Linked DNA regions of Homo sapiens. The protein of the gene in region 1 purifies or fractionates together with the protein of each later gene. This does not show direct contact. Each region holds a gene or a part of one and is shown on either strand. Other genes may lie near its edges.

The links.
Region 2: the proteins of RAB11B (region 1) and CHM purify together in Homo sapiens (affinity purification with mass spectrometry; 4 studies listed by BioGRID and IntAct, with this or other methods). This does not show direct contact.
Region 3: the proteins of RAB11B (region 1) and PADI3 purify together in Homo sapiens (affinity purification with mass spectrometry; 2 studies listed by BioGRID and IntAct, with this or other methods). This does not show direct contact.

What each region holds. Positions count from the first base shown.
Region 1 is NC_000019.10:8,402,606-8,405,055, forward strand, and holds the end of RAB11B (ras-related protein Rab-11B), read left to right. Parts: intron 1-807; coding exon 808-953; 3' UTR 954-1,829; downstream 1,830-2,450. UniProt on the Homo sapiens protein: The small GTPases Rab are key regulators of intracellular membrane trafficking, from the formation of transport vesicles to their fusion with membranes.
Region 2 is NC_000023.11:85,957,012-85,960,673, reverse strand, and holds part of CHM (rab proteins geranylgeranyltransferase component A 1), read left to right. Parts: intron 1-1,696; coding exon 1,697-1,813; intron 1,814-2,698; coding exon 2,699-2,819; intron 2,820-3,662. UniProt on the Homo sapiens protein: Substrate-binding subunit of the Rab geranylgeranyltransferase (GGTase) complex.
Region 3 is NC_000001.11:17,282,337-17,284,816, reverse strand, and holds the end of PADI3 (protein-arginine deiminase type-3), read right to left. Parts: intron 1,972-2,480; coding exon 1,738-1,971; 3' UTR 584-1,737; downstream 1-583. UniProt on the Homo sapiens protein: Catalyzes the deimination of arginine residues of proteins.

The DNA.
Region 1 (2,450 bases):
GGCAGGGTGGAACACGGCCTCTGAACCTTCGCTTGTTTTGTTCGTTTGCTTGTTTTTTTCTTTTTTTTGTCGGGGCAGGATGGATTTTTGCTCTTTGCCCAGGCTGGAGTGTGGTGGCTCGATCTCAGCTTACTGCAACCTCCGCCTTCCAGGTTCAGGCAATTCTCCTGCCTCAGCCTCCCGAGTAGCTGGGATTACAGGTGCCTGCCACCACACCCGCTAATTTTTGTAATTTTTAGTAGAGACAGGATTTCACAATGTTGTCCAGGTTGATCTCGAACTCCTGGGCTCAAGTGATCCTCCTGCCTCAGCCTCCCAAAGTGCTGGGATTACAGGCGTGAGCCACTGCACCTGGCCTGTTTGATTTTTTTCCACCACCACCCCTAACCTTTGCTTTTTAAACCTGCCGGTCCACCTGGACACTTCACAGGGTCAGACCAGGTCTAGCCCTTGCTGGCACTGGGGACACAGAGACCCCCTGGCCCCAGTTCCTGGGGATGGGCCCTGCCTTAACTCTTGGCGCTGCGGGGAGGCGGGTAGCCTCAGGGACCTGGAGCCTTTTGGCTTCTGGGAGTTTACCTCTGAGGGAGGAGGGCGCTTCTGATCTTAGGGAGCGAGAGGCCGGGGCTGGCTGTGACCAGATGTGGGTCCTGGCTGGGTGCGCAGCCCCTGTCCTTGTTACCCCTGATGTGATGGGGGCGCTGTGGGGGTCTGGAGAGGGCCTCTGGAGTCCTGCAGGGAGGGGTTCCCCTCGGCAGGCAGGGCACGTGCTGGCTCACCCCACGTCCCCCTGTACCCCCTTTGCAGAGATCTACCGCATCGTGTCACAGAAACAGATCGCAGACCGCGCTGCCCACGACGAGTCCCCGGGGAACAACGTGGTGGACATCAGCGTGCCGCCCACCACGGACGGACAGAAGCCCAACAAGCTGCAGTGCTGCCAGAACCTGTGACCCCTGCGCCTCCACCCAGCGTGCGTGCACGTCCTCCGCCCGCCCCCGCCACGGTATCCTCTGGCCCCTCCCTGCTGTCCCTCTGTGGCCGGCTCGTTCCAGCCCTCCCAGTGAGCTCTGCACGGCCGGGCCGGGGCCCAGGAAGGACAGGAGCCAGTGCTACCCCGTCCTGCCCGGGGAAAAGCTAGAAGCCCCGGTTTGCTGCACCCATGAAACTCGGGTCCCCACAGCGTCTTGGCGGGGTGGGGAGGGCGGCAGGATGGACGGGGCTGGCCAGAGGCGAGGAGGACGGGCGGACGGCGCCGCCTTCTCCCCTTTTCCTTGGCCGACTCTAGGGAGCGATTGCCTCCCTCCCTCCGTGACCGGGTGGCCCAGCCAGCCCGTCGTCCCCACCCAGAACCGTGCTCTGGGCCAAAGCCCGAAGAACCAGGCAGCGGGGGCCGGGGCAGGCGGACCCCCCGGGCTCTCAGCGCCCACCCGCTCCTCCGCACACAGCAGCTCGCACAGGCCTCCCACCTCTGCCTGTTGATTGATGCAGGGAGAAGCCCGTCCCCCCCTCTCCCCTCTCCCCTCCCCTCTCCTGCACGCAACGCGCCCTCTCGGCCCTCCCTGTCCCCCTCCTCTGTCTCGTCTCCCCATCTGGTCTGGAACCTGTTTGCAAGTGAAGCAATATCTCCGTGTTTTGTATATACAACCGCTCTTGTAGCCTTTGGTTTTTGTTAATGTAGAGAAACACAGATTCTTTATACACTTTGTAAGATTTACGCCAAACCCCAGCTCTCGATCTCTTCTTCTCCCTGTGGCCCCTGCGCTGTTGCCCCGTCCCCGTCACCCCGCCCGTTACTGAAATGTATAATCTGACTTCCTGTACAGAAACCTGCCGCTGCGCCTCTGTCTTCTTTCTTTTCCGCCAGGCGCCAGCTCCTAGGCTGAGGCCCCTCTCGCTGCACGTTCCCCAATGCAGGCCAGACCCCCCGTCTCCCCAGCCCACCCCACAGGAAGCGAGAGGACCCCAGCACCTGCCAAGGGCAGCGTGGAAGTCAGCCAGCGCAGTTGGGGTGGGCCCTGGTCAAGCTGCCCCTGTGGCAGGGAGGGATGGAAGGCTGCCGCTTGTCCTTGACTTTAAACTCCTGGGTCCTAGGACCTCAGGCCTGCGGGCGTCCCCTGATGGGGATGGGAGCCAAGAGCAGTGGCCAGGGTTCATCACTTTGTCTCCTGCCAGGGCCTCCCCTCCCCTGGGGTCCTGACGAGGGTGACTTGCCCAGTGGATGTTGGTGATGCCAGATGTCTCCACCCTAAACTGACACCGGAGGAGGGCCCAGTGGGGAAATGCCAGGGACAGCAAAATGTGTGGCATGGAGTTCCTCTTCCCAGGATCCAGCGTCTCCCTCCACCTCACCCCTGCAGTGACCTTGGGACCAGTGTGAGCTGCCAGCAGCTGTCCAAAAGCTCCAGCCTCTAGCTGAAGAGGCCACCCACACCCTGAAGACCCTGGGG
Region 2 (3,662 bases), on another chromosome or scaffold:
CGGGCGGATCACCTAAGGTCAGGAGTTCGAGACCAGCCTGACCAACATGGTGAAACCCTGTGTGCTACTAAAAATACAAAAAATTAGCTGGGCGTGGCATTGCATTCCTGTAATGCCAGCTACTCGGGAGGCTGAGGCAGGAGAATCGCTTGAACCTAGGAGACAGAGGTTGCAGTGAGCTGAGATTGAGCCACTGCACTCCAGCCTGAGCAGCAGAGAGACTCTGTCTCAATAAAAAAAAAAGAAAAAGAGGCTTAGATTCTGATATGTACACATTTATTATTTGTGAGCTTCAGAAACAAAAATCTAGTATAATTTTAATTGAAATTTGTTTTTGTTCTTGTGATATCTTAAATGCATTATTTTTCAAGCTGGCATTAAACCTTAAGGTTTATTGGATCTTATTAAATAAAAATGCAGTTTCATATTTTATATCTTAATGTTTGTGACATTATTATGGCTATGCAGGGATCCTTGAGTCTCAAATGTGTATCTTTTTAAACAAGTGATTTTTGAAGTAACTATTTTTTATCATTATTATAGAGTTAAGAATTGGCAATATATTCTTTAAAACATGGTCTCTTTCAGTAATGTAGTGTGTTAGGAAGAGGGTAATGAAGTAACGTGCCATATTTAATCAGGATGATCAGATTAGCTTCAAAAAAGTGATGTCAATTTTGTTTTGCAGAATGCTGAACTATTAGTTTATAAAATTTTACTTGAATGGTATTGATTTACTGATAGTCTTTACTGACTTATTAGTTGCTCAGACTAATGGTTTAGATTGATTTTTGAGATTCCTTTTTCTTTGTATAGTAAAGCTAATTTTCCCATTTATTTATTATAGATGTAACATTCATTTTTAATATTTATTGAGTTATAGGCATTAAGAGTATCTTAATATAGGAAATAGTCAAATCTGTTGCATTTAACCATACGGTTAACATGCTAGATAATACTGTTTACATTATTGATTTTATCTCTCTGATATTACTTATGAGATGTTGAAAGATTAAATCAATTTCTCCCATACATGCCAGCAATAATCATCATCTTCACTTTTTGAGAAAGACATATCTCATATAAACCCAGACTTCTAGAATTACAGAAGTACCTTATAATTTGACTTTTTCAGTGTAAATGCATCACAAATATTTTTTTCTTTTTTTGATGGGGTAGGGAGGTTCACTGGACTGATTTCTTCTTATAACTACCTGGCTTTGTGTAAGACTATAGATTCTTATCCAAAACCCTCAGGGCCTGGTGTATTCTATCATTAAGATTAAAAAAATATATTTTAGAAAGTAATGAAGTACATATACTGATATGTTATATGTTAGGTTAAATTATTAGCAGGGTCTGAGGAGGAACTCTAACTAAACACATTATTTCTGCAGTGAAATATATGAATATTTATGTTAATTTGGACAAACAAAGCCAGAGTGCCTTATCAGTATGGATCAGGTTTTGCTGCTAAACATGTTTTGTAAAAACTTATGGATTGCAAAGTTTTTTGAATTTTGAATTTCAGCTAATCAATTCTGAGCCTGTAATAGATTGTGTTATGTATTATAATATTTATAGGTATGATTGTTTCTACAAATAATAAAAAATATAGCAAAATTATGTATCTTTATTGTTTTCCAATTTTTCTACTATTTCAACTTTTATCTTGTAAAATATTTTCTTTGTACAGCTGCTGTATTCTCGAGGATTACTAATTGATCTTCTAATCAAATCTAATGTTAGTCGATATGCAGAGTTTAAAAATATTACCAGGATTCTTGCATTTCGAGAAGGACGAGTGGAACAGGTACTGTGCTGATCAAGAATTGTAACTGGGCATCAGCTTAAGTTATTATGGTTTGTTTTGGAAAGATAAGCAAATAAGATTGTTATTTTCCTCATAAAGCAGTAAATTCCAGTCCTCCGTGGTGATTTACAAATGTAAATGCTTAATTAAAATTTCTAGTGCTAATTTTCTCATGGCTTACTCTGCAGCTTGGTGTTGGTACCAAGCAGCACACAAAAAACCAAAAAGCACACCAGAGTTACTATACCCAAGACTAGTCACACAAATCCTTTTCTCCCATTAATCAAGATTTTGGAGAGGGAAAAGAAAGAAACGGTGATTTTTGCTGTCCACTTGATCAGATTCCACACAGAGGAGGAGGCCCGGAGCCTGGTTGGGAAAAAATTCTTACCCTTATGACAGCTGATCAGATCCTGGGTTCTTCACTGCAGCTTCCAGAAGAGCAGAGCTTTGCTATCCTGCTCACAGCACCAAAACTGTAGGGGCCAAGGGAAACACTCCCTCTTAAGCCTCTGAAGTTTCACTGAAAAATCAACTCACAAAGGCAGATTAATTGGAGAAAAGGCATAAAAATGTACTAACATGTACATAGGGAGAACCACAGTGTTTGTTTTAGATAGCACTGCTAAATTTTTCTCTGTTAGGATGACATGCCGTTGGCCTTTTAATGGCATGGGGAGTAACTTGGCAGAATTAAGTAAGAAAGCTCACAATTAGCTCTGAAGTTAGCAGAGATGCCATTAGTACTGATGGACGGTGATGTGAAAAAGCCTGGCTAGAGTGGAAACGATAATCCTGTTATATGTAAAGGGGAAAAAAGTGTAATTTGGAATAGTTATATCATTAGGAAGCAGTTTCTTAACTTAAAATCATAATATTTTTCAGGTTCCGTGTTCCAGAGCAGATGTCTTTAATAGCAAACAACTTACTATGGTAGAAAAGCGAATGCTAATGAAATTTCTTACATTTTGTATGGAATATGAGAAATATCCTGATGAATATAAAGGTATTTTTTTCATTAAGTAGTGCTCTCCAATTATTTGACATTTCTTACTATTTTAATATGCTTGCTCTGATTTAGTGAGCCACTTATTACTGTTTTAAAATGCATTCTAACTCTGCACTATCAATAGGTTAGCCATTAGTAACATTTAGCTATTTAAATTTAAATTAATTAAAGTGAAATAAAATAAAATAAATTCAGTTTCTCAGTCTTATTAGCTGTATTTCAAGGGCTCCCATAGCCCCATGTGGCTACAGTGCAGATATTTTCATTGCTGAAGTGGCATGCTAGATTTTAATTTTTATTCTTATTATTTAAATACTACTGTCAACTGGCTCTTCATAGATGATAATCTGTTTTCATGATTCCATTATTTTTTCTCATAAGTAAAAATACTATATATTTTATCATTTTCCAGGATTGCTTTTGCATAGAATCTTGAACTATTTCGTTTGAAAAAAAAAGGCTAGATGGTATATGGGGAAAAATACTGGATTCAGAAAAGGCATGGTTTCTATTCTTGGCTTTGACCTATTTCATTATGTGATCTGGGGCCAGTTACTTCATTGTCTGTTAAAAATTGAATATGCCATTTTAGTGTCAGAGCTATATACTTTAAGTCCATTGGTCTGAAAATGTTATCCAAAATTGGAATATACTATTGATAATTTATTTATAAAGTTACAATGAGAAGTGCAGCGATATTTTTTTTCCTCTGTGAAATAATGAAAGTCTAATCCTTGCTCTTAAAGCTTCAAGTCTACTAGGTACTGTCATGTTGTTATCCACAGTGGCTGTGTAAAATTCAATTCTCTCAGTAAATTTTCATAATTTTTATTTATGTAA
Region 3 (2,480 bases), on another chromosome or scaffold:
GTATGTGAGGGGACACCGGGAATCTGTTCAGAGAACCTAAGTAAGCCACGGCAAGGAGGCAGCACTGGAGAAACCTACACAGCTCTAGCCACCCAGCCCGGGGTGAGCTTGAGTGTGTTTCTGTGTTTTGCGCCTTGAGGGAAAATAAAGGGGTTGGGAGGGTGGAGGGCAGAGGGACAGTGCCCGAGTGCTCTGAAGTAAGGCTTCCCGCAGCCTCTTGCAGGCGGAAGGAGGATGCTGCTAAGGACACACAAAAGGCCTCCACATGCTCCCCATTGCCCATCCTTCCACAGTGCAACCTCCAGCCACAGCCCGGCCCCTAGCCTTGCCATGCTCACTTGTCCTGGTAGCCTGGCATTTTACCCCCAGGCTTGCTTTTATGTGTCCATATCATTACAGGTGTCCATGGCAGTCCTAACCCATCCTCTGGCCAAGACAAGGCAATCTCAGTCTTATCAAAATTTGGGATGTCAGCCCCAAATTCTTGGGGGTCAAGAAAGCAAATGCTTCAGCTGCAAGAAAGTCCTCTCTCTTTGCTGTCTCATTCTAAGCTCAAAGAAGGGTCAACATGAGAGCCAAGCCATTTGTGTTTCTGTTGATTTATTAGCGAGTGATGGAAACGCAGCTGGACCCATACAGAACACACGTGTAGCTGGCACACACCTCGAGAACCGCCCCCCCACCCCCATCCCCTGAATTCAGTGGTTCATTCCCAGAGTTTTCCCGCTGTGAGCTGCCTTGGTGGATCCAGCCCCTTAGCCCCCTCTCCTGCAGCAGAGCAGGATGTGGAAACGCTGACCAAAGGCCAACAGAGAGCCTGAGACCAATCCAGAGGAGAGGCAGCGTTCTCTCCTCCTGCAGAGAGAAGTCCCAGGGCCAATGAAGCAACCTTCTCCAGACACCTAATATTAACCATCACAAGGTGGATCACCATAGTCAACCATGTGTATTATGGGAACTACTTTTCACCCTTGTACCCAGTCTCCCTAGTACCCAACAATCCCCCAGATACTTTCGTCTCCAAGAAATTCCAGGAGGATTCTGGACAAGGCTGGATTTCTGCATGTCAGATCATGGGGAGTTTATAAGGCTAAGGGACAACTCTCATTGCTTCCACATGCATCTAGAAGCTCCTACTATGTGACAGCTCACGCTGGGTGAGGGTCAACATCTGGGCAGGAGCTTGGCCGGGTGAAAGATGGTTCCGCCCTGATCTAAGTGGATCCACAGCTCCCTTTTTATGGGGGAGGCTTTAGGAAGAATCTCTCCTGCCTGTCCTGCGTGGAGTGGTCTGGTTTTAGGGTTGTTCCTCTGCAGAGAGGAAGCAATTGGACCAAAGCAGAATCATGGATCCTTCCTCTGTTAGGATGCACAGGACAAGATGGCTGATGAGATACGTGGATGTTTCTAGACCCCAATGTGGATTTGTCCCCAAATGGATGATTTCAGAGTGAGAAGGGGACATCTCCATGGGTTGTGTTGAATCACAGGAGAGGCTATAAGAAATGAGGTCCTTCTTTTTGGGGGGCCGAGAAGATTCAAGTCTGAGAACCACATGGGTTGCAGGTGAGGCATGGACACTTCCAGGGAAAAGGCTTCTGAGAGGGACGGTCACCCTCAGTGTTCCATCTGGAGCCTTGGGGTCTCTTGGTGCTTATCGTTCAGGGGCCTGTCTCTGTCTCCACCACCTGGGCCAATGCCCGCCCCAGGGGGACAGGATGGTGGGTGGGAGCTGTCTCAGGGCACCATGTTCCACCACTTGAAAGAGAAGGGCTTTCTGCACACATTGGTGCCACAGTGCACCTCCCCATGCAGCATGTGGTATGGAGTGAAGTCATCAATGAAGGTGCAGTGGAGGCCCAGCGGCTCCAGCAGGGACCGCACCTTCTCCTCCAGGCAGCAGCAGCCATTGATGATGGGCCCAAAGGGCTTGGGGATGCCCAGGTGCTTCCCCAGCACCAGCATGTTCACCTGCAGTCCAAAGGGGAAGCAGCACTTCATCACTGGGCTCCCACCCCACACCTCTACTCTACCTGCAGGACCTAGGTTTGTGTTTTAGACAGCCTTGTCAATAGCTACTCACCCTTTCCTGTGCAATGAGAAGGTAACTGGCTAAAGGGGCTGGGAAGAACCGGTTAGCCAGGTGCCTTTGGGAGCATCCGCAGAACTCACTCTGGCAACGTGCTCTGGAAACTGCCCTAATGTGAATTTGGAATTGTGGATTGTGGCAGCTGCCATGTTTGTGCTGCAGAATCCCAACCTTCTAGGCCATAACTGATTGGGCCAGGGAGAACAGCTGGTCCAAGATGGACCAATCAGAGTCCCTCTCCCAGGAATTTGAAACTGACAATGGGAGCGTCTAGTTGGTCTCTGCCCGTGTCAGTGTCTCTGTGCATGGCCATACTCATCTTTGTCCCCAGGAACAGAGAAGCAAAGGAAGCCAAGCTGGAAGAAGAGGGAGAAGAAGTAGGAGGTGGAGA